Regions from separate parts of the Homo sapiens genome. Here all the other regions are linked to region 2. Evidence: fine-mapped expression QTL. A gene starts in region 2. Each other region holds a variant in brackets. All regions are shown on one strand. Distances are between the middles of the regions.

Region 1 (7,675 bases), 470 kb after region 2:
CTCCCAGCTATCCCCTCACCTCAGAGTCACTTGCTTTGCCTGGGTTCTCCCTCCGTGAAATACATCCTCTCAAGCGGTAAGCTGGGCAACCGAGGGGTTCTCCTTGTTTGTTTCTTGCCTCTGAGAGATCACTGTCTTTTGTTACCTCATGTCCAGTGTCTTGAAACTCATTATTTCATGTATTTACTGTTTGGTTGGTTGTTTCAGGCAGGAGGATAAACTTGGCCCCTGCTCCTCCATCTTGGCTGGAAAGGGAAGTTGTATCTGTACTTTCAGTCAAAAATTTTTTTTTTTTTTTTTGAGACTCTGTTGCCCAGGATGGAGTGCAGTGGCGCAATCTCGGCTCACTGCAAGCTCCGCCTCCCGGGTTCACGCCATTCGCCTGCCTCAGCCTCCTGAGTAGCTGGGACTACAGGTGCCCGCCACCACGCCCAGCTATTTTTTTGTATTTTTAGTAGAGATGAGGTTTCACCATGTTAGCCAGGATGGTCTCGATCTCCTGACCTCGTGATCTGCCCGCCTAGGCCTCCCAAAGTGTTGGGATTACAGGCATGAGCCACCACGCCCAGCCTTCAGTCTGTTTTTGTTCAAACTGTGGAGCTGCAGATTAAAGTTATTCCATTTTAGGGAAAATGTCCACCATACATCCTACTTGCAAAGACTATCCTCTCTGTCAAACCTGTGAGCCAATTCTGACCTTCTAACAGAAAAAGTCTGATTTTATTTTTCCATTCAAATCAATGTGGTTAATATGTATCCTGTGTCAACCATCTCACTTTCAGTTTAAATTCTTCTTTATTTCTTTTTTTAGAGTTAAGGTCTCGCTCTGTTGCCAGGCTGGAGTGCCATAATGTGATTATGGCTCACTGTAACCTCGAACTCCAGAGTTCAAGTGATCCTCTTGCTTCAGCCTCTGGAGTAGCTGGGTCTACAGGCGCATATCACCATGCCCAGCTAATTTTTATTTTTATTTTATTATTTATTTATTTATTTTGAGATGTAGTCTCGCTCTGTCACCCAGGCTGGAGTGCAATGGCATGATCTTGGCTCACTGCAACCTCTGCCTCCAGGGTTCAAGCGATTGTCCTTCCTCAGCCTCCTGAGTAGCTGGGACTACAGGCATGCTCCACCACGCCCGGCTAATTTTTGTATTTTTAGTAGAGACAGGGTTTTGCCATGTTGGCCAGGCTGGTGTTGAACTCCTGACCTCAGATGATCTACCTGCCTCGGCCTCCCAGAGTGCTGGGATTACAGGCGTGAGCCACCGCGCCCGGCCCATGCCCAGCTAATTTTTAAAATTATTTTTTGTAGATACGGGATCTTGCTATGTTGCCCAAGCTGGTCTCAAACTCCTGGCCTCAAGCCATCCTCCCACTTCAGCCTTTCAAAACACTGGGATTATAGGCATGAGCCACTGTGTCTCACCTGAAGTTGAATTATTTTTAAAAATTTTTATTATTTTTTCCTTTTTAATATATATTTATATATTTTACAATATAACATGTCAATGAATTTGAATTCTTAAATGAAGAAGGCACAGAACTGAGCCACAGGGCTGCCCCTGTGAACTTTCTCAAAGAAGCTCTCCAGGCTTTGCTCTTTCAAGGACTTCCTCAAGCAGAGCATTCTCAAGTGGCCCTTTTATTTGTTTTTTACAGCGCAGAGCAAGGAGCCAGAGTAGGATTCAGAATGAGGGAGGGGAGGCAACTGGGAAAGTGGAAGTTGGGAAGGACAGCTGTCAGGCCTGTGGCTTCTTAGGCCCACCAATATAAGGAGGGGAACATATGGAGAAGGCGGCTCTGGAAACTGATTACTTTAAAACTATCTGTGTCCACCTACCTTCTAGAAAGTCTTCATGTCCTTGTAGGGGAGTGCAAACCCTCGTGTGAAGGCCTCTGACACCAAGTGTGAGAAGCCATTGATGGAGCCATTACTGCTTCCTTCGTTGTAGCAGAAGGGATGGGGAGAGGAGCAGGCAGGAGCGGGGGTAGGTAAGTTGTGGCTTTGGTGCCTTGAAGGTGAGGAAATTTCTATTTGAAGGCTTCAGTTTTCTTCATGAAGAATTTTTTTTTTTTTTTTGTCCACTGAGGGGTGGGGGAAGGTGAGATATTTGAGGAAGGTGGAGAAAATATAAAAGAGTCAATACAAATAATCAAAACTAGTAGCTAGAATGAATACTAGCTAGGCAGAGCTGAGGGTCCAGTTAAGATAGGTGGTCATGAATTCAAATCTACATCAATCTGCTCAGCTGTGTGATTTTCTTTAGCAATATTAAAGCTCTTGTTTGTTTGATGGTTGTGGATTTGGTAAAATGCTGATCTTTCCCCTATATTGAGAAAAATGTGAGTAATCACAAAGAGGCCCGATAATAATTATGAGAAATTTATCAAGGCCCTTCCAGTGTTCCTCTGCATAAGGTGGCTTTGGATGGCCAGACATTTACATAGCACATAGTGGCTTTCTTTTGTTTCTCATATTCCTGGTGAATTGAACTACGATTTCTTCTCCTAAGCATAAATACCTGCAGACCTTAGTTACAGTCATCCCTGTGAACAAGGGTGTGGGTAGAAAGGGTGAGGAATGTCTGTCTTTCCTATCACCAGGTAAATGGGATCTTGATGCTTGGCATGGGGTCCCAAGAGCTTGCCATTACCCATGTGTATTATCAAAAAATGAGATACTGCCACCGTCAAAGAAAAGATCAGGGCCGGGTGTAGTGGCTCACACCTGTAATCCCAGCACTCTGGGAGGCCGAGGTGGGCGGATCACAAGGTCAGGAGATCGAAACCATCCTGGCTAACACAATGAAACCCCGTCTTTACTAAAAATACAAAAAATTTGCCAGGCGTGGTGGCAGGTGCCTGTAGTCCCAACTGCTCGGGAGGCTGGGGCAGGAGAATGGCGTGAACCTGGGAGGCAGAGCTTGCAGTGAGCCAAGATCGTGCCACTACACTCCAGCCTGGGCGACAGAGCAAGACTCCGTCTCAAAAAAAAAGAAAAGATCAGAAACTCTCTGGACGATAGGCAAAGGTTGTAAACCAATGTATCCTCTTTCTTAAAATCTGATTTAAAGCCTTCTTCCCTGTCCTGACATGCACTGGGAGAAGGACAGAATGAGTTGGAGGGGGCTAGGGAAATTTTGGCTTATAACTCTCTTGAGAAATGTCTTTTTAAAAATTGTCTCGGCCAGGCGCGGTGGCTCATGCCTGTAATCCCAGCACTCTGGGAGGCCGAGGCAGGCGGATCATGAGGTCAGGAGATCGAGACCATCCTGGCTAACACTAAAAATACTCTACTGTCTCTACTAAAAATACAAAAAATTAGTGCAGTGAGCCGAAATTGTGCCACTGCACTCCAGCCTGGGCGACAGAGCAAGACTCTGTCTCAAAAAAAAAAAAAAAAAATTGTCTCAAGCTGGAATATTGCCCGCATATCATGGTATGGGATATGCTATATATCAGTAAAATCTAAGATTCAGCCAATAAAATCAGTCTGTCTAACACTGTCACTCTAAAAGTCCCCAAATCACCACAGCCATGGAAGGATGGTTTTCCCATGGTAACAGACTATATCAAGTTTACATATATATATATATATATTTTTTTTTTTTAAGATGGAGTCTCGCTCTGTTGCCCAGGCTGGAGTGCAGTGGCGCAATCTCGGCTTACTGCAAGCTCTGCCTCCTGGGTTCACATCATTCTCCTGCCTCAGCCTCCCGAGTAGCTGGGACTACAGGCGCCCGCCACCACACCCGGCTAATTTTTGTATTTTTAGTAGAGACGGGGTTTCACCATGTTAGCCAGGATGGTTTCGATCTCCTGACCTCATGATCCACCTGCCTTGGCCTCCCAAAGTGCTGGGATTACAGGCGTGAG[C/T]CACCGTGCCCGACTTATTTATTTATTTATTTTTTGAGACGGTGTCTTGCTCTGTCATCCAGGCTGGAGTGCAGTGGCACGATCTCGGCTCACTTCAACCTCTGCATCCCGGGTTCAAATGATTTTCCTGCCTCAGCCTCCTGGGTAGCTAGGACTACAGGCATCCCCCACCACGCCCAACTAATTTTTGTATTTTTAGTAGAGGCGGGGTTTCACCATGTTGGCCAGGCTGGTCTCAAACTCCTAACGTCTAGTGATCCACCTGCCTCAGCCTCCCAAAGTGCTGGGATTACAGGCATGAGCCATCATGTCCGGCCTCAAGTTATATTTTAATAGCATACAGGATACATACTCGTACTCAGAATGTGAGTTCAAGGATCAGTGGCACAAATAGGGGAAATGACCTCAAGTTCCAAATGTTAATGTAGTTCTATTAGAGTGTCTGAGTGGGGAGAAATCATTTCTTGAATTTTGCAGGGCAAGCATAAGTGCTTTGACTCATTTTTGTACGCCTCACAGCGTGCTTGTAAGCCATGTCTCCAGGGCCATACACTCATTGTAAGTGCCCCTAATAATAATAAAGCAAAGGATCTGCTGCAACTCAAAGGAAATAGGAAGTGCTTTAAGTTCCACATTCCAAAGTCAGGGCTAGAGAGGCAGGCTGGATTTCCTGCTGATGTGGATTGCCTGCTGTTGGTTTGGGCCATTCTAGGTATAAGGTAATGTTTTAGATTACTGCTGGGTTCTTCTGGGCCTGGCAACATAAAGAACAAATCTAATCAATGCATCAGCTGCTATGGCTCATTCACCTTCCTGAAGTGTTGTGTGGCCACAGCCTGCAAGAATATGACCTGGAAATCCCCAGGTAGGGCCCTCGGGTGTGCTCAGATCCCTCATGCCCACCCATCCACCCCTCTGCATTCTAACATTTCAGTGGTTATGTTCAGGCAAAGTGTCTTCTGCTCATGCTTGGGAGGAAGAGTTCCCTTAACCTCCCTGTGGCTCATTGTCCCTGAGGATACCAGGGCTCTCTCAGCCTGGCTGCATGATGACAGAGGGACACCATTATCAGAGAAACCAGGGCTGATGAGCAGCTCTAGGTCAGAGAGGCCGAATGCTACCTGGACATGAAGAGAGAGGTCCCAGCAGACCCCCTGGGGACAGGTTCAAATTAGGTTCCAGCTTCCCCTTCCTGGTGTCAGGAGTTACTCATCTTGATTTACTTATCTTGCAAAGGAGCCAAGGTATCCTGCCGTACCTGCCTATTGCCTTCTGTCTCTTCCACAACTCCCATGTCTCTTTTCGGTTTCTGCTCCACTTCTCATGGGCTACTTGGAGTAGGAAGTAGGTCTCAATAATAAAAAACTAAATAAAACAAAAACATCATCTGATTTGCCTCCAGCTCTGCCACAGACTATTTGGCCCTAGAACAATCCCTTCCCTTTCCTGATACTCCTCTGTAAAATAGCCTGGATCAGTAGCTTTCATATTACATTCTGTGAAGCTGCCAGGAGCCGGAGGGGTTCCCCAGATACCCGGAGAGGCTGCAGTGGAAAGACAGGCTAAGCTGACTCCACCCCCAACACCCAGCGCCCACCAGAGTAGCTGCCTTTTACCTGTTTTATATATTGTTTTTCCACACAGAGCTTCTTTGAAGAAAGAGTCCTGAGGCTACAAAATTTGAAAACTGCTGGAATAAACGATCGCCAAGGCCCCTTCCAGTCTGAGACGCTTGGTCTTCTGAAGCCCAGCTCAAGTTTTTCCTCCTCCAGAAAGCCTTTCTTGTTACCCAGTCCTGGGTACTTGAGCTCCAACAATAATGATGATGGCAGGCATATGGTGCCGTCCGTGAGCCATCCGATGCCTGCATGTGTGCATAAGCTGTCTCCCCAGCTAGAAGGTGAGCTCTTTGAGGGTGGTGTTCAATTTTTCTTCCACACCTCTGTCCCCTTGTAATACCATATGCAAAGTAGGTGTTCAATAAACATGTTGATGCCACCTGGTGTCATGAGCTCTCACATGGGATAAAACTTCCCTACCAGGAAGTTTGGGAAGGAGGAACCAGCCTTTGGTCTGCTTAACGCTCCACAGAGAGACTTGTCCTTAAAAAGCTGGGGACCCTAACCTGGGAAGCAGCTTCAGACTCATACACTTCCCAAAGGGCAGGTCTGAGTTCCTGCCTTGATTGGATTTGGCTTCACCTCTTCTGCCCCTCAGTACCTCTTCTGGTGGGGCCTCTTATACACTGTGGCTGTAGAAGAGGCACGGTCCTGAAGCCTGGGAATCAGGTCAGCTAGGACGCCCCAGGGCCAGCAGACATCTCAGCCAGATTCCAGAGGGAGGCACGGGGGAGATGGAGAGGAACTCCTGGGTTTTTTTGGAATACAGCTCTCTCAGGAAGTGGAGGCCCAAAGAGGGTGGCTGGATTCAGTCAGAGACACCAGAGAAAGCAGATTGGAGGAGGGTGCTAGCGGTGAAAGAAGGCAGGTAGCCAAAGGGAAACTGGAGGTTGTAGTGGTGGAATGAAACCGCTCTGCCATTTAGTGGCTAAGTGACCCTGAGGTCAGTTCATCTTACTTAGTCTCAATGTCTTTACCTATAAATTGGGTGTCAAAAGAACCTGACCAATGTCAGGCTACCCTGTAGTGAAGTAGTGAGATAGATTCCAAGGAGACTAAAATGTGCAGAGATGGAAAGGATTATTACTGTTTATTAACACAGGAAAGCACAGGAGCCTGCTTCCAAAGAGGGACTGTCCCGTAATTGAGAGATGCTCCAAGGCTGACCATCCTCCTTCTCCTGCTGCACACCCAGCAGCCATCTATGGCTGGATTTGGAGAATTTCTGGTCAAACCGGTGAGTATGAGGAGAGCAGGGCAGTTGGGGAGAGAGGTCCCAGCCCAATTCTGCCCAGAGAAGCTCCCAAAAGAGAGGGAAGTGTCCTGATGAAGAGCCCATGAAAGGGGTGAGACCCAGGAGGCTGTGGAGATTGCTGCGGGCTCCTCTGGTCAGTAAGGAACCCTGACAAGATCCCTAGGATGGGGGTCCCTTAGTCTCACTGAAGTTCTTGTAACTTGGGATGGGGGCCAGGTCAGCCTCCTCTGATACCCGAAGCTACACATCTGGCCTTCCCCACTTCTAGAGGAGGGGTCTTAGATGGTGCTGTGGGAGCAGACAAGCCCTCAGCAGGTCGCAAGCAGGTCCCCTCCAAAACCCCTCCTGCTGGAATCCTCCAGATGTGAGGAGTAGGAGCAGACAGATCAAGGCTGGGACATCTGGCAGGGTTTAACATCCACAGCTGGAGGGTGAGACCTCTCCCTGTGGATCTGGAGAAATACCTTCGGGCTCCAGCCTATTGCTGCCCTTGCCTTGTCATCCATGACAGGGTTCCGCGCCCTGTCCAGCCTCCCCGGGTCCCCCTCAGCTGCTATAGCCTGACGTGTGAGTGCTGGGCCTGCGCAGCCAAACATCTGGCAGGTCTGGCTGGCTATTGGGCAGCACCACAGGGCTGCCATCCCCTGGCCCCCCTCGGCCCTTCCAGGACAAGCTGCTGTGATGGGAAGCGGGCAATGATGGGTCATACACTGTCTCCCTCAGCGCCAGCCACAGGGTGTCCCGCTTCCCATTGAGCTGGCCTCGCTCAAGGACTGGCTGCCCAGTGTCATCCAGGTCATCTGGGGACACACCCACGGAATCTGGTACACGGGCACTGGGCTCAGAGGTGCTTAGGCAGGTCTCATCAGAGACGCTGAGCCCCTCCAGGGTGCTGGCTGAGGAACAGAAGCCATCAGGAGGATCTG
Region 2 (7,675 bases):
GAGAACTGGGTTCCAGGGATTAGGGAAAATAAGACAGGGATGAGCAGGAACGAAAAGTGGCTGTCTGGAGGCAACCTCCCAGCCCAGGGGCTTGGCTGACAAACAGGAGAGTACCCTGAGAACACCTGCCAAGGGAGTAGCGAGCTGGGAGGAGCGCAGTCCTCCCTCCTTGCATTTTGTAGAAAGAAGACAGACTACTTAGCAGTCTGCCTAGCAGACAGACAGGCTAGCCCCACCAGGCCCCCAGAGTGGAAGTAGCATGCAGAGTGATGCATCAGACTTTGAGCTGAATCAGGGGCTGAATCCCACCCCAACACAACTCAGTCCTCTCCAAGCCCCAGCCCCCAGGACCAAGGAGCAGGTACCTTGCCTTACCACTCCCTTCCTCCCACCCGCAAGAGAGCAAAGGGCTAGAGTGGCAATAAAACCAGCCCCTCCCCCAGTTAGTTACCAGGTCTCAGGACCTCAGGGAAGTGCAGACTCCGCCTCCTAAGCCACTCCTTCATAGGACTGGGGAGGAGGAGAGGTGGGGGAAGAGAAGGGGAGAAGAGGAAGTGCAAGCTGCTCCGCCTCCAGCTGCAGGAATCTGTACTGGCCTGGCCTGGCCACAGGCAGAAGGAGGAACAAACAAACCCATTCTGGGGAGCATTTATCTATGCAATAGGAGAATCAAAGGTTTGGAAGCTCTCAGTGCCCGTGACCCACGTCACCCAACCCACCTCATCCACCCTAGCCCTTAATGGCTCTACCCTGTCATTACCCACCTCCAACCTCTCTAACTGGACCCAGGTGAGAATAAACCCCTTGACACACACACAGCTTTTTCCTCTTCCCAAAGCACTGCAGCACTCTAAGAATGGCCTAGAATGGCCTGGAGCTCATACTAAGTCCAAGCCCTACCTGCCTCCCTCAATGTCCCAGGAAATCCCCACTCCACCCTCTCTTGTGGCAAACAGGCAGGTCCTGGGGGTTTCCAGATGAGGATGGCTGGTCTCAAGACCATGGGGCCATAGTCCAGCTAAGCTCCCTGACCAGACTCCAGAATTTCACACTCTGGCTCTGGAGAGGGACTCCCATGGGGCCTCTGTGGAGCAGGAAGGGCATGAGCAACTCAGGTCAGTAAGAGTCATCACCACCTACACTTTCTGCTACTTCCTTGTGGAACAGGCTGCAGCCCTGGTTCAGTGGGACTTGGTGGCCCAGACTGGCCCTCAGATATGTCCCCCTCCCATCCACAGGAATCCCCATCTCGCCTCTCCTCAGAGACCCAGGAGAGCTACTGGAAGGATAGGGAGGAAAGAGGACCCTCCTTAGCCTGGCAGAGAGACTAGCCCAGGAAAAGTCTGCGGAGGAAAGCCCTTTCTCCACTTTCCAGAACGGAGACCACCCCCAGATGTGGCCCCAGCCCAGTTCTGGCCCCCAAACTCCCCAATCCCCGGTTCTGTTATCCACTGGGCTATTTTGGGTCAGAATGCTAGGTTTTTACCAGAGAGATGGTCTTGTGTGAAAAACAGCACAGGACTTTTTTTGGAGGTCTCCCCTGGGGTGAATCTCAGGCCTACCATTTATGGGCAGTGTTACCCTGGGCAAATTCTTTAACATGGGAGTCTTAGTTTCCTAATCTAAAAAGTGGGATGACTGCTAGTAGCACCCTTTTTGGAAGTTGTTGTGATGAGGCCTGAGTGAGAGGATGTGTGGCACAGCAATCAGTAAGCTGTAAAGTGCTCACAGAGGTTATGAGAGGTGACCTACCCCTGCCCTGGAGCCCCACCTGGCCAGAACAGCAGGTAGAGAGAAAGGGGGAACCAAGGCTCTGGACTGGCCCTGATCCCAGCAGACAGTTCAGTCCGGGGAAGAAAGAGGAGGAGCCCTGGCCTCCGCTTTGCCTTTATCTATGGAAGTAAACAAGGTTTGGCTACCAGATTCTAAGCAGGGAGAGCCCTGTCTGGCTCATGCGCATGCACACACACCTGCCTGGACAGCTGACATCCCTTCCCTACTAGGTATACATACCAACAGGCTGACTCACCCCACAACCCTCCTCATCCCCCACCCCAGAGCCTCTAGGCTTCTGTGCCTACAACATCACTTCTCTCCCTTTGGATCAACCGCAGACTGGGCTTGTTTTCTAGTCTCGGATCTGGCAGTCTTCCTGGACCACCAAAAGGCCAATGCATTCCTAGGGGGTAGAGAGATGCTAAGCAGTCCCAAGTCCAGCCAGTGGAGGAGACTATGGCCAGGCTCACCTGACAGGGCATCGGTGTGCCCAGACCAGTGCTTGGCCAAGGTGCCTTTCTAGTCACCAGACCATCCAGACAGCTCACTCCTTCAATCAGCCTATCAGTGCCAGAGGTCAGGAGTCCTGGGGACTTCCTCTCCCCTCCAGTACACACAGCCCAGAGCCAAAGGCCTCCCTGTGAGCACCAGCCCATCACCTCTGAACATCCTGAGTTCAGGAGCCAGAGCCTGGGCCCTGCCCTCCCTACTCATGTCCCCTTTCATTTGTTTACTGTTTGTACTGCCTACTACCGATGTGAAGGCGATCTGGCTGTGACATCTGTCACCCCATTGATCACCAGGCTTGATTCGGCTGTACTGCCTACTTCTAAGGAGGGCTTCAGGTAGAAATAATCCCAGCACTTTGGGAGGCCAAGGTGGGTGGATCACCTGAGTTCAGAAGTTCAAGACCAGCCTGGCCAACATAGTGAAACCCCGTCTGTACCAAAAAAAAAAAAAAAAAAAAAAAAAAAAAAATTAGCCGGGTCTGGTAGCGGGTGCCTGTAGTTCCAGCTACTCCGGAGGCTGAGACAGAAGAATCACTTGAACGTGGAAGACGGAGGTTGCAGTGAGCAACCAGAGATTGCGCCATTGCACTCCAGCCTGGGCGACAAGAGCGAGACTCCGTCGCAAAAAAAAAGAAAGAAAAAGAAAAAAAAAAGTGAACTCTCCTTAACTCCTCTCTGATGTTCGTCTCCCCTAGGACCCCATAACCAGTCCCTTTTTTGAGTCTCTCCAAACCCATCCATCTTGGCACCCTCCTCACCTCCAAAGCCCTGGGTCCGCAGCTGGCGGTAGGAGCGGTACACTTCCCTCGTGAGGTAGTTGATGAAGCCCTCCCTGGGCGCGAACTTGCACACGAAGTTCTGCTCGTAGAGGCAGTTGATGAGGAAGCAGGCGGCGATGGCGTCCTCCCCGCGGTCGGGCTGCAGCTCCACTAGCGCCAAGTTGCAGTTCTGGGTGGTGCAGCAGGCGCGCACGCAGTCCCAGCCCCGGCGCACGGTGGGGGACTCCAGGAAGGTAGCTCCGTTGCTGACCGAGGCGTTGGTGTCCAGCACGAAGCCAGGCACCCCGGCGGTAAAGCTGTTCAGGCAGTCGGCTCCCGCGGGCAGCCCAGGGGGCGCGGGCGGTGGCCCGGCCTGGGTGCCCTGGAGGCCGAGCGTGCACAGAAGCCACAAGGCGACGGCAGGGATGCCGGCCGGGGCGAGGCGGGCGCGGGCCATCGTCCTCGCAGGGGCCATCGCCTTCCTCCCCAGGGGGGTCACCTTCAGAGCGCGGGCCTCTGGGTTCCGAGGGTGCTGGTGACCTGAGAAGAAGGGAGGGGACAGAGGAGGAGACACACCTGATCAGCCCGGGAGACTTTGGAGGAGGCGGGCCGGCCGGGAGGAAGTGGCGGGGAGGAGGGACCGGAGCACCCCAGGATCGAAGAGGGCGCACGGGCCCGGCCCTCCCACGCGCCCTCCAGGGACCCGGCAGCCAGACAGACGGACAGGCGGACCGCTAGGGAGCTCAAGTACCCGGACACACGCACGAGCGCAGAACAAAGGGCCGGACATGCTCCAGCCCGCTCCGCCTGCGCCTCGGCCTTGCGCGCGGGGGCCCGGGTTACCTGCGCAGGTGAGTTGGGTGGGGCCGGGTCCGCCGAGGTTCCGGTCCCAGCTTCCTGCGCGGCTCGGGTCGCGGCTTCCGACCCGGTGCTCGGAGAGCTGGGGCTCGGCCGCCTTCTCCCCCTGGTTTCTGGTGAAACTGAGTCAGCGCCGTCGGGGCGGGGCCGACATTCACCCTTGCGCTGCCGGCCCCGCCCACGCCCGGTGCGCTGCGGCCGCCTCTAGCGCGGAGCTCCAGGCCCGGCCCGCCCCGCGGCCCCGCAGCCCCGGTGCCTCCCCGGCAGCCAGCTCCCCGGAGGGGCTCTCGGGCTCCACCCAGTCCAGCCTCGCGAGGGAGCCCCGCGCCCGAAGCGCATACCCAGCCGGGAGGGGATGCGGCCGGGACGCGAGGGTCCGGCCTCTGGGGCGGCGGCCTCCAGTCTTCCTTTCCGGCCGGGGCCTGCTTTCCCAGCCCCAGACCTGAGGCCCGATGCAAATGATCTTTCCGGCCCTCAGGAAATCATTTCCATTTCGTGGCGGGAAGGTAACCCAAAAGTTGCGTGGCTGCACCTGTGATAACAGGGATCCGGGATGTCTGCCTCACTGTCAGCTCCGGGAAGCCCTCCCTGCTGTCAGGGTGAGAAACGGAGGCGATTCCCCGCGTCCAGGCTCCCCTGCGTGCTCCACGGGGCTTCCCTGTTGTTCGAGGCCCCTCCTCATCTTGTATGTACAGTTCGGTCCATTCCCTGCTATGGCTCATTGGACTGTTGCCCCCTTCCCTGGAGCCCAGGCTTCCTCTCTTTCACAAAGGGGACGCTGCTGGCTACTTTCTTCCAGGGAAATGTCATCCTTGGAAGCCTGGAGGTTCCAGTTCACCAAGTAGCTGAGTTAATGCCCTTCACGAAACAGTGGACTCCTTGAAGCCAAGCTCATTGCTCCTCCTGAGTAAAAAACTCTTAAGAGACCATTCTCTACGGCAAGGGTCTGAACAGGTGAAAGACAGATGAAGGCAGGGCTGGAGGAAGGAATCACATAGCATGCTCTCTTAAAATACAGATTCCAAACCTTTTCCTGATGGCTTAACAACCCCCAAACCAATGGGAACATTCTTCCCAGTTTCTCATCCAGAGCAGCTTTGCCTAGCAGATCCTGTGGCCAACCCTTGGATTTTGCTGAACTGCAACATCCTCCAGCTGCTCACATGATGCGTGTTGGGGTGGGAATCTGGGGCCTGTCTCCCCTTCTCTGGATGTTTAGGGTTTATCCACAGACCCTGGCACACTGGTGGATATACAACAATGGTGGTATGCTGGGAATGAAGAAAATGATTGTGCAGTCACTGGGAAGAAAGGGTTTTGTTGTGATTTGATTTCCCCTTATGGCTAACACATTCAAGAATCTTTATTTATTTATTTATTTATTTTTTTTTTTTTTTTTTTGAGACGGAGTCTTGCTCTGTCACCCAGGCTGGAGTGCAATGGCACGATCTCGGCTCACTGCAACCTCTGCCTTCCAGATTCAGGAAATTCTGCCTCAGCCTCCCAAGTAGCTGGGCTTACAGGTGGGCACCACCACGCCGAGCTAATTTTTGTATTTTTAGTAGAAACGAGGTTTCACCTTTTTGGCCAGGCTGGTCTTGAACTCCTGACCTCAGGTGATCCACCCACCTCGGCCTCCCAAAGTGCTAGGATTATAGGCGTGAGCCACTGTGCCTGACCTCAAGAATCTTAATACAGGAAAATATTACCTTATGGTAATATTACATCACCATAAATTTATCATTACATCCATTATACACACCATTATAAAAACCAACATGAATTCAGCACTGACAATGCCCAAACTCTGTTCCTAAGCACTGCCCACATATTACCCTATACTCAAAACAAACCTAGGGAGGTAGTATTTTTAGCCCCATTTTACAAATGAGCAAACAGGCTCAGACAGGTAAACTGACTTGTCAGGTCATTCAGCATTGAAGCGGCAGAGTAGGGATTGGAGCCCAGGCAGGCCAATTCCATGGCTTCAGTGCTTAAACCCTGGGCTTTATGGCCTTTGCAATTCTGACTTCATCTGGAAGTTCTGCCCTCACCTCAGATTCAACTTGCTTAAACCCATAACTCACTTTCAAGTGGTGAGCACCCACCATTTGTTGAGATGCCCACTGTGTTCCCTCCAGGCACTTGACATAGGATTGCTAATGCTCAGGACAACTCTAAAAATTGCTTCCACTTTGCAGAAAGGTTCACTGACTCCATCAAGGTCAGGTAGTGAACGAAGAGTGGTGACAGGTTGTAGAGAAGTTGAACTTGTGAGCTTCAGACTCAGACTACTGGATTTAGCTCTTGCATCTGCCACTTACTATTCGTGTGGCCTTGTGCAAGTTATTTGATCTCTCTGCCTTAGTCTCCTTGAATGGGAAGTGGGGCTTCATAAGGTTTTTTATGAGGATTAATTGAGTTAATGCAGACAAAGCATTTGACACAAAGAGTTCTCAATAAATGTTACTTGAAACGACAACAACAACAACAACAAAAACACATGGTGGTGAGGATGCAGAGAAAAGGGAACGCTTATACATTGTTGGTGGGAATGTAAATCAGTTCAGCCACTGTGGAAAGCAGCTTGGAGATTTCTCAAAAACTTAGAACTACCATTCAACTCAGCAATCCTATTACTGGGTATATACCCAAAGGAAAATATATTGTTTTTCCAAAAAGACACATGCACTTGTACGTTCATCACAGCACTATTCACAATAGCAAAGACATGGAATCAACCTAGATGCCCATCAATGATGGATTGCATAAAGATAATGTACTTCATACGTACCATGGAATACTATGCAGCCATAAAATTAACAAAATCATGTCCTTTCCAGCAATACGAATGCAGCTGGAGGCCATTATCCTAAGCAAATTAAGGCAGGAACAGAAAACCAAATACCACATATTCTCACTTATAAATGGGAGCTAAGCATTGAGTACACATGGACATAATGATGGAACAATAGACACTGAGGACTACCAGAAGAGAGAAGGAGGGAGGGGAGCGTGGGGAGCGTGGGCTGAAAAACAACCTTTTAGGTAATATGCTCACTACCTGGGTGACAGGCTCATCTGTACCCCAAACCCTATACCCATGTAACAAACCTGCATGTGTACCCACTGAATCTAAAATAAAAGTTGAGGCCAGGTGCAATGGCTCATGTCTGTAATCCAAGCACTATGGGAGGCTGAGGCAGGAGGATTGCTTGAGCCCAGGAGTTCAAGACCAGCCTGGGCAACATGGCAAGACCCCGTCTCTATAAAAAAAAATACAAAAAATTAGCCAGGCATAGTGGCGCATGCCTGTAGTACCAGCTACTCAGGAGGTTGAGGTGGGGGGATTGCTTGAGCCAGGGAGGTCAAGGTGGCAGTGAGCTATGATCATGCCACTGCACTCCAGCATGGGTGAAAGAACTAGACCCTGTCTCAAAAATAAGTAAACAAAATAAAAGTCGAAATGATTCTTTTAAAAAAGTGACAGAGCCAGGATTGTATCTGAAGTCTTTTTGACATTAAAAGCCATACTTTCCATACTACCTTATGCTGCTTCTTACATACTAATAAGAAAAACTACATGTGAAGAGAAGAAAGACTATAAGGTATGCCATCAAAGTAGGGAAAGTGATGGTATTTGAATGGTGAGACTGTAGGATAACATTTCTTCTTTCTAGTTTTAAAAATATTTTCCAAGATCCCTTCAGTGAACATGGGATGCTTCCATAATGAAGAGAGAGACACACCGTGATGACCTCCACATACCATATT
Region 3 (7,675 bases), 41 kb before region 2:
GCTCTGTCACCAGGCTGGAGTGCAGTGGCGCAATCTTGGCTCACTGCAACCTCTGCCTCCCTGGTTCAAGTAATTCTCCTGCCTGAGCCTCCTGAGTAGCTGGGACTACAAGGGCGCACCACCACGCCCAGCTAATTTTTGTATTTTTAGTAGAGACGGGTTTCACCATGTTGGCCAGGATGGTCTCGATCTCCTGACCTTGTGATCTGCCCGCCTCGGCCTCCCAAAGTGCTGGGATTATGGGCATCAGCCACTGTGCCCTGCCGGAGGCTTTTTCATTGATGCCTGTGTCCATTTGAAGTACAGCAGTTCCCCCTTATCTGTAGTTTTGCTTTCTGGGCTTTCAGTTGCCTGCAGTCAATAGCAGTCTGAAATAGGTGTGGATAATAGAATAATATATTTTGAGAGAGTGAGAACACATTCACCTAACTTTTATTTATTTATTTATTTTTGAGATGGAGTCTTGATCTGTTGCCCAGGCTAGAGTGCTATGGTGCAATCTCGGCTCACTGCAACCTCCACTTCCTGGGTTCAAGCAATTCTCCTGCCTCTGCCTCCCGAGTAGCTGGGACTACAGGCACCCACCACCATGCCTGGCTAATTTTAGTATTTTTAGTAGAGACGGGGTCTCACCATGTTGGCCAGGCTGGTCTCCAACTCATGACCTCAGGTGATCTGCCCACCTCAGCCTCCCAAAGTGTTGGGATTATAGGTGTGAGCCACCGCACCCAGCCTCACATAACTTGTTTGTTTTTTTTTTTTTTGAGACGGAGTTTCACTCTTGTTGCCCAGGCTGGAGTGCAATGGCGCTATCTCGGCTCACCACAACCTCCGCCTCCCGGGTTCAAGTGATTCTTCTGCCTCAGCCTCCCGAGTAACTGGGATTACAGGCATGTGCCACCATGCCCAGCTAATTTTGTATTTTTAAAAGTAGAGACAGGGTTTCTCCATGTTGGTCAGGCTGGTCTCGAACTCCCGACCTCAGGTGATCTGCCTGCCTTGGCCTCCCAAAGTGCTGGGATTACAGGCATGAGCCACCTCATCTGGCCTACATAGCTTTTATTACAGTCTGTTGTTATAACTGTCCTATATTATTATTGTTGTTAATCTCACAGTGGGCCTAATTTATAAATTAAATTTTATCACAGGTTATGTATAGGGAAAAACAGTCGTCATGTCTCCTTGGACTGCTCTTGACTGGCAGTTTTTAAGTTTTTCAGATATTCCTTGTTTTTGATTACCTTGATAATTTTGAGTACTAGGCAAGTATTTTGTTGAATGCTCTCTGTTGGAATTCATTTAATTTTTTTTCATGTTTAGACTAGGGCTATTTATGGTTTGGGGAGATAAAGAACCATTATCAACACCTCTCTATTATATCGAGGATACACACTATCAACATGATTTATCATCATGACTGATCACCTGACCAAGATAGTGCTTGTCAGGATTCTCCACTACAGAGTTACTCTTTTCCCTCCTTTCCATGCTGTACTGTTTGGAAGGAAGTCACTACACACCTACACACCCTGCACTTAAGGGGTGGGAGTTTTTGCTTCCTTGAGGGTGAAGTATCTGCATAAATCCTTTGGAATTCTGGCATTCTGGCCAGACATGGTGGTGCACACCTGTAGTCCCAGCTACTCGGGAGGCTGAGCCTGAAGAATCGCTAAGCAGAGGTTGCAGTGAGCTGAGATTGTGCCACTGCACTCCAGCCTATGTGACAGAGTGAGCCTGCTGTCTCAAAAAAAAAAAAAAAAAAAAAAAAGACTTACTAAGAAAGAAAACCTAGCAGTCCTTTGCCCCATCCCCAGTTAAATTCCATCTGTTTTCATTGCTCAGAGCCCCAGTCACGCTGATCTAAGGATGTTTCCAAAATGCACCACACCCATTTGGACATTAGAGTGTCTGGTGTTGAGGATTTGCTCCCTCTAGAATGGCTTCCCTGATACTCCTCCCCTTGCCAGGACCAGGCCCCTGTCTTCTCTAATTCTCACCAGACAGGGAAAAGTGTCTCTAGCACACCACTTCCTGGCACAGGGCCTAGCACAGTTGTTGGCTTCCATTAAAATATGCTGAGGAAAGAAGACCCTTGGCCTGTTCAGAACAGCTCTCCACGCCCTTCTTTCTTCTCCTTCATGTTTGGCTCCCTTCTGCATGTGTCTAAACCTACCTGAATCGCCCCAATTCTCAAAAAGTATCCCCTCCCTGCTACTGTCATCCCTCTCTCACTGAGGGAGCTTCTAGCCAAGCTGCTCTCTTTCATCCCCCCACTGCCCTCAGGACTGCAGGCCCAGTGGCCTCACTTGTCTAGGTCAGAAATGAGAGCATCCTCAAACCAGGGGTCCTCGAACAGGGGTTCACACATCCTTAGGGGTATGAAAGGGTCTCCCAAGTGACAGAGGGTAGAAATTATTTTAAGGGAATCAGTTTCCAGATCCCCAACTGCATTGGGCTCTTTCCTAAAGGTGACCAGCAGGTCTAGGTACCTGTAAACAAGTGGCAGGTCCCCTTGCATTCCTACTGCCCGGCCCCTGCTTTAGGAGAAGAAGCTTATCACACACCACTCCATCACAGGCTCAGACCTGGAGCCCCAGGGCTTTGGGAGGCTGAGGCAGGAGGATCACTTAAGACCAGGAGTGGCCGGGCGCGGTGGCTCACACCTGTAATCCCAGCATCTTGGGAGGCCAAGGCGGGTGGATCACCTGAGGTCAGGAGTTTGAGACCAGCCTGGCCAACACGGTGAAACCCCGTCTCTACTAAAAATATAAAAATTATCTGGGCTTGGTGGCAGGCACCTGTATTCCCAACTATTCAGGAGGCTGAGGCAGGAGAATCGCTTGAAGCTGGGAGGCAGAGGTTGCAGTGAGCCGAGATTGCACCATTGCACTCCAGCCTGGGCGACAAGAGCGAGACTCTGTCTAAAAAAAAAACAAAAACAAAAACAGGGGTTCCAGACCAGCCTGGGCAACATAGTAAGACCCCATCTCTACCAAAAAAAAAAATACAAAAATGAGCCAGGCGTGGTGGCGCATGCCTGTGGTCTCAGCTACTCAGGAGGCTGAGGTGGGAGGATGGCTTGAGCCAAGGAGGTCAAGGCTGCAGTGAGCTGAGATCACACCACTGCACTCCAGCCTGGGTGACAGGGCGAAACCCCATCTCAAAAAAAGAAAAAAAAAAGATGAAATGTTTGAGTTGTCAGCATAGTTTATAAGCTTCTTTAGGGAGCATGGGAAATGGGGAGTCAATGCTTTGTGCCAGCACCACATCTGCCAGGAGCCCCACCCTCACCCCGCTGGTTTTTGCTCTCCCCACTACCACTCTCCATGCTGTTTCTCCAGTGGCCTCCTTGGCCAAGCTCTTAAAGCCCCTCTTGTTTTCAGATATGAAACCCAACTTAGCCAACACCTTTGGACAAGTCCCCTACCCCCTCTGAGCTACGCTTTTCTTTTCTCACCTGTAAATTGTGAAGGGGGAACTTAACCATCTCTAATAATTCTGTGATTCTCTAAAAGCTAAACCCAGCCAGGTGCAGTGGCTCACGCCTGTAATCTCAGCACTTTGGGAAGCCGAGGCGGGTGGATCACCTGAGGTCAGGAGTTCGAGACCAGCCTGACCAACATGGTGAAACTCTGTCTCTACTAAAAATACAAAAATTAGCCAGGCGTGGTGGTGCGCACCTATAATCCCAGCTACTCAGGAGGTGGAGGTTGCAGTGAGCCAAGGTTACGCCATTGCATTCCAGCCTGGGCAACAAGAGCAAAACTCCGTCTCAAAAAAAAAAAAATGCCAAACCCTTGTTGTGGTCCATTTAGAGATCTTTGAGGTCAGTGCTCAGGAAATAATGGTTTTCAGAGCACTGCCTCAGAGCTGGGTGCTATGCTTCTTACCTATCCTTTAGTAGTCTAGAAGATATTTCAAAAGATGTTGAAGCCAGGGAACCTCATCTGATTAATGTGAAATCTAATAGCCACCTCTCATCCTTCCAGCCCTGACAACCTTTTAGATCATAAGGCCTGACACACTGTAAGTACTTGGGAAGTGCCTGCTGAATGAATGCATGACTTGGCATGTTAACGTGCATCACATGCACACACTATATCACACGCGTATATATGAGTTAACTATATATTCATCCGTATGACCTATTGCAGAAACTGTTTTCAAACTTAAAAAAATAACTGAAACGGAGTCTTGCTATATTGCCCAGGCTAGTCTAGAACTCCTGGGTTCAAGCAATCCCCCTGTCTTGGCCTCCCAAAGTGTTGGAATTATAGGCATGAGCCACTGTGCACAGCCTGTTTTCAAGCTTTTAAAAAATGATGAGATTTAGTATTAAAAGCAACAGCAGGCCAGGCATGGTGGCTCACGCCTGTAATCCAAGCACTTTGGGAAGCTGAGGCGGGAGGA[TCACGAGGTCAGAA/A]GCTCGAAACCAGCCTGACCAACTTGGTGAAACCCCCATCTCTACTAAAAATACTAAAATTACCCAGGCATGGTAGAGCGTGTCTGTACTCCCAGCTACTCAGGAGGCTGAGGTAGGAGAATTGCTTGAACACTGGATGCAGAGGTTGCAGTGAGCCGAGACTCAAAAAAACAAATAAAATAAAATAAACAGCAACAATACAACAGCAACAAAATCCAAAATATTTTTTTAATTAAAAAATTTTTTTTTGAGATGGAGTCTTGCTCTGTCGCCCAGGCTAGAGTGCAGTGGCAAGATCTTGGCTCACTGCAACCTCCACCTCCTAGGTTCAAGTGATTCTCCTGCCTCAGCCTCCCAAGTAGCTGGGATTACAGGTACCCACCACCGTGCCCAGCTAATTTTTGTATTTTTAGTAAAGACGTGCTTTCACCATCTTGGTCTGGCTGGCCTCAAACTCCTGACCGTGTGATCCACCCGCCTCAGCTTCCCAAAGTGCTGGGATTACAGGTGTGAGCCACCACGCCTGGCCAATTTTTTTTTTTTTTTGAAATGGAGTCTGGCTCTTGTCGCCAAGGCTGGAGTGCAGTGGCGCGATCTCGGCTCACTGCAGCCTCTGCCTCCCAGGTTCAAGCAATTCTCCTGCCTCAGCCTCCCATGTAGTGGGGATTACAGGGACCCACCACTGCCCAACTAATTTTTGTATTTTTGGTAGCGACGGGGTTTCACCATGTTGGCCAGGCTGGTCTCAAACTCCTGACCTCAAGTGATCTGCCCACCTCAGCCTCCCAAAGTGCTGGGATTATACGCGTGAGCCACCGTGCCCAGCGCCAAAATATTAAAAACCAACAACACCAAGTGTTGTGAGGTTGTGGAGCAACTGGGGTGTCATAAAATGCTGGTGGGAATATAAAATGGTACAACTACTAACAGCCACTTAACATGCATATTTACCTCATGACCCAGCAATTCAATATCTGGGTATTTATCCAAGAGAAATGAAAATAATATGTCCACACAAAGATTTGTACATGAATGTTTATAGCAGCATTATTCATAATAGCTGCAACTGGAAACAAGTCAAATGTCAATCAAGAGAATAAACAGGCTGGGTGTGGTGGTGGCTCACACCCGTCATCCAAGCACTTTGGGAGGCCGAGGTGGGAGGATCACCTGAGTTCAGGAGTTTCAGACCAGCGTGGCCAACGTGGGGAAACCCCATCTTTACCAAAAATAGAAAAATTAGCCGGGCGTGGTGACAGGCTCCTGTAATCTCAACTACTTGGGAGGTTGAGGCAGGAGAATCACTTTAACCTGGGAGGAGGAGGTTGCAGTGAGCCAAGATCACACCACTGCACTCCAGCCTGGGCAACAAGAGCAAAACGACATTTCAAAAAAAAAAAAAAAAATAAACAAACTGTGGTATATCCATATAATGGAATATTACTCAGCAAAGAAAAAAAAAAGAACTGTCCGGGTGTGGTGGCATGTGCCTGTAGTCCCAGCTACTTGGGAGGCTGAGGCAGGAGGATTCTTGAGCCCAGGAGTTCAAGGCTGCAGTGGAGTCATGATCATGTCACTGCACTCCAGCCTGGCAACAGAGACCCCATCTCTAAAAAAAGAATAAGTAAAATAAAAATTAAAAAGCACAAAAAAACAAGCTACTCTTATACACAACAGCATGAGTGAATCTCAAAAACATACTGAGGTGCTGGATGCAGTGGGGCACGCCTGTAATCCCAGCTACTTAGGATACTGAGGCAGGAGGATCTCTTGAGGCCAGGAGTTTGAGTCCAGAGATGAGCGAGACACCCCTCATCTCTAAAAATAAATAAATAAATGGCCAGGCGCGGTGGCTAACGCTTGTAATCCCAGCACTTTGGGAGGCCGAGGTGGGCAGATCATGAGGTCAGGAGTTCGAGACCAGCCTGGCCAACACAGTGAAACCCCGTCTGTACTAAAAATACAAAAAGTAGCTGGGCGTGGTGGTGGGCACCTGTAATCCCAGCTACTCGGGAGGCTGAGGCAGGAGAATCTCTTGAACCCGAAGGTGGAGGTTGCAGCAAGCCGAGATTGTGCCACTGCACTCCAGCCTGGGCGACAGAGCTAGACTCCGTCTCAAAATAATAATAATAATAAATAAATAAATTAATTAATTAAATAGAGCCAGCGTGGTGGCTCACGCCTGTAATCCCAGCACTTTGGGAGGCCGAGGCAGGCAGATCACTTGAGCTCAGGAGGTCGAGACCAGCCTGGCCAACATGGTGAAACCGCCTCTCTACTAAAAATACAAAAATTAACCAGGAGTGGTGGTGCACACCTGTAATCCCAGTTATTCAGGAGGCTGAGGCAGGAGAATCAATTGAACTCAGGAGGCAGAGGTTGCAGGGAGCTGAGATTGCACCATTGCACTCCAGCGTGGGTGACAGAGCCAGACTCTCTCAAAAATAAAAATAAAATAAAAATAAGAGAAAATAAGGAAGTTAGTAGGGGAGTTTTTTAGGTAAAGGTTTTAGGTGGCAACTCTTGCAGGCATTTAAAAAGCTAGGGCTTGGGTGCAAGATCTGAGCGGAAAGAGAGGTTGGAAGGGGGCAGTAGCGGTGGGATCAGCTGGATGGCGAGGTGGAGAGAAATGAAGGGAGAAGCGGAGGCCAAGTCTGGGTGCGAGGGAGCAGGGAAGACAGGACAGAAGTCCAGGAGCCAGCCTGAGCCCAAGGGTGGTCTAGAGGGTGTGGGGACTGAGGAAATGGACTTGAAGGGTTGACCAGCAGCACCATGGGGCAAACTCAGCCCAGCTGGGTAAATTTGCCACAAACTCCCTCCAAGGACACAAGCACATGGAAATAGAGAAAAATCTGTGTTGCTGGGTGTCGTGGCTCACCCCTATAATCCCAGGACTTTGGGAGGCTGAGGCAGGAGGATTGCTTGAGCCCAGGAGTTTGAGAACAACCTGGGAAACATAGGGTGACCCAGTATCTACAAAAAAATTAAAAAGTTAGACAGGTGTGGTAGCATGCACCTGTGGTGCCACATACTGAGGAAGCTGAAGCAGGAGGATCACTTGAGCTTGGGAGGTCGAGGCTACAGTGAGCCCTGATCGCACAACTGTACTCCAGCCTGGGTGACACAGCAAGACTCTGTCTCCACAAAGAAAATAAATAAAATGCATAAAATAAAGAAAAAGGAAGAGAAAAACCTATGGTGGCCCAATTTCCACTGAAAGCTCAGAAAGTGGGTAGTCAAGTTATTGTATTA

Evidence for each region. PIP is the estimated chance that this variant, and not a neighbour inherited with it, causes the effect. A credible set is the group of variants that fine-mapping cannot tell apart.
Region 1: its variant is the best candidate, but not a certain one, in a credible set for the expression of SPINT1 in monocytes (Fairfax 2014, PIP 0.58).
Region 3: its variant is the best candidate, but not a certain one, in a credible set for the expression of SPINT1 in whole blood (TOPMed, PIP 0.52).

The regions. Positions count from the first base shown.
Region 1 is chr15:40,369,939-40,377,613 of GRCh38, reverse strand. It overlaps DISP2 (dispatched RND transporter family member 2), which reads right to left. Exons shown (of 8, transcript NM_033510.3): 8 at 1-7,675. The coding sequence ends at 7,296. LOC124903472 (a long non-coding RNA gene) reads left to right here. Exons shown (of 4, transcript XR_007064597.1): 1 at 1-1,991; 2 at 5,520-5,775; 3 at 6,597-6,731. Among named protein-coding and RNA genes, the nearest start is that of KNSTRN, 8.9 kb to the left of the region's middle. The variant C/T (reference allele first, on the strand shown) is at 3,876.
Region 2 is chr15:40,840,398-40,848,072 of GRCh38, reverse strand. SPINT1 (serine peptidase inhibitor, Kunitz type 1) reads right to left here and starts at 4,025. Exons shown (of 11, transcript NM_003710.4): 1 at 3,887-4,025; 2 at 3,044-3,583. The coding sequence starts at 3,518. It overlaps SPINT1-AS1 (SPINT1 antisense RNA 1), which reads left to right and starts at 3,549. Exons shown (of 2, transcript NR_146468.1): 1 at 3,549-3,894. RefSeq lists silencers at 3,344-3,583, 3,874-3,933, 4,014-4,243, 4,405-4,587 and an enhancer at 3,881-4,452.
Region 3 is chr15:40,881,002-40,888,676 of GRCh38, reverse strand. No RefSeq gene overlaps it. Among named protein-coding and RNA genes, the nearest start is that of VPS18, 9.6 kb to the left of the region's middle. RefSeq lists an enhancer at 3,681-3,730. The variant TCACGAGGTCAGAA/A (reference allele first, on the strand shown) is at 4,411.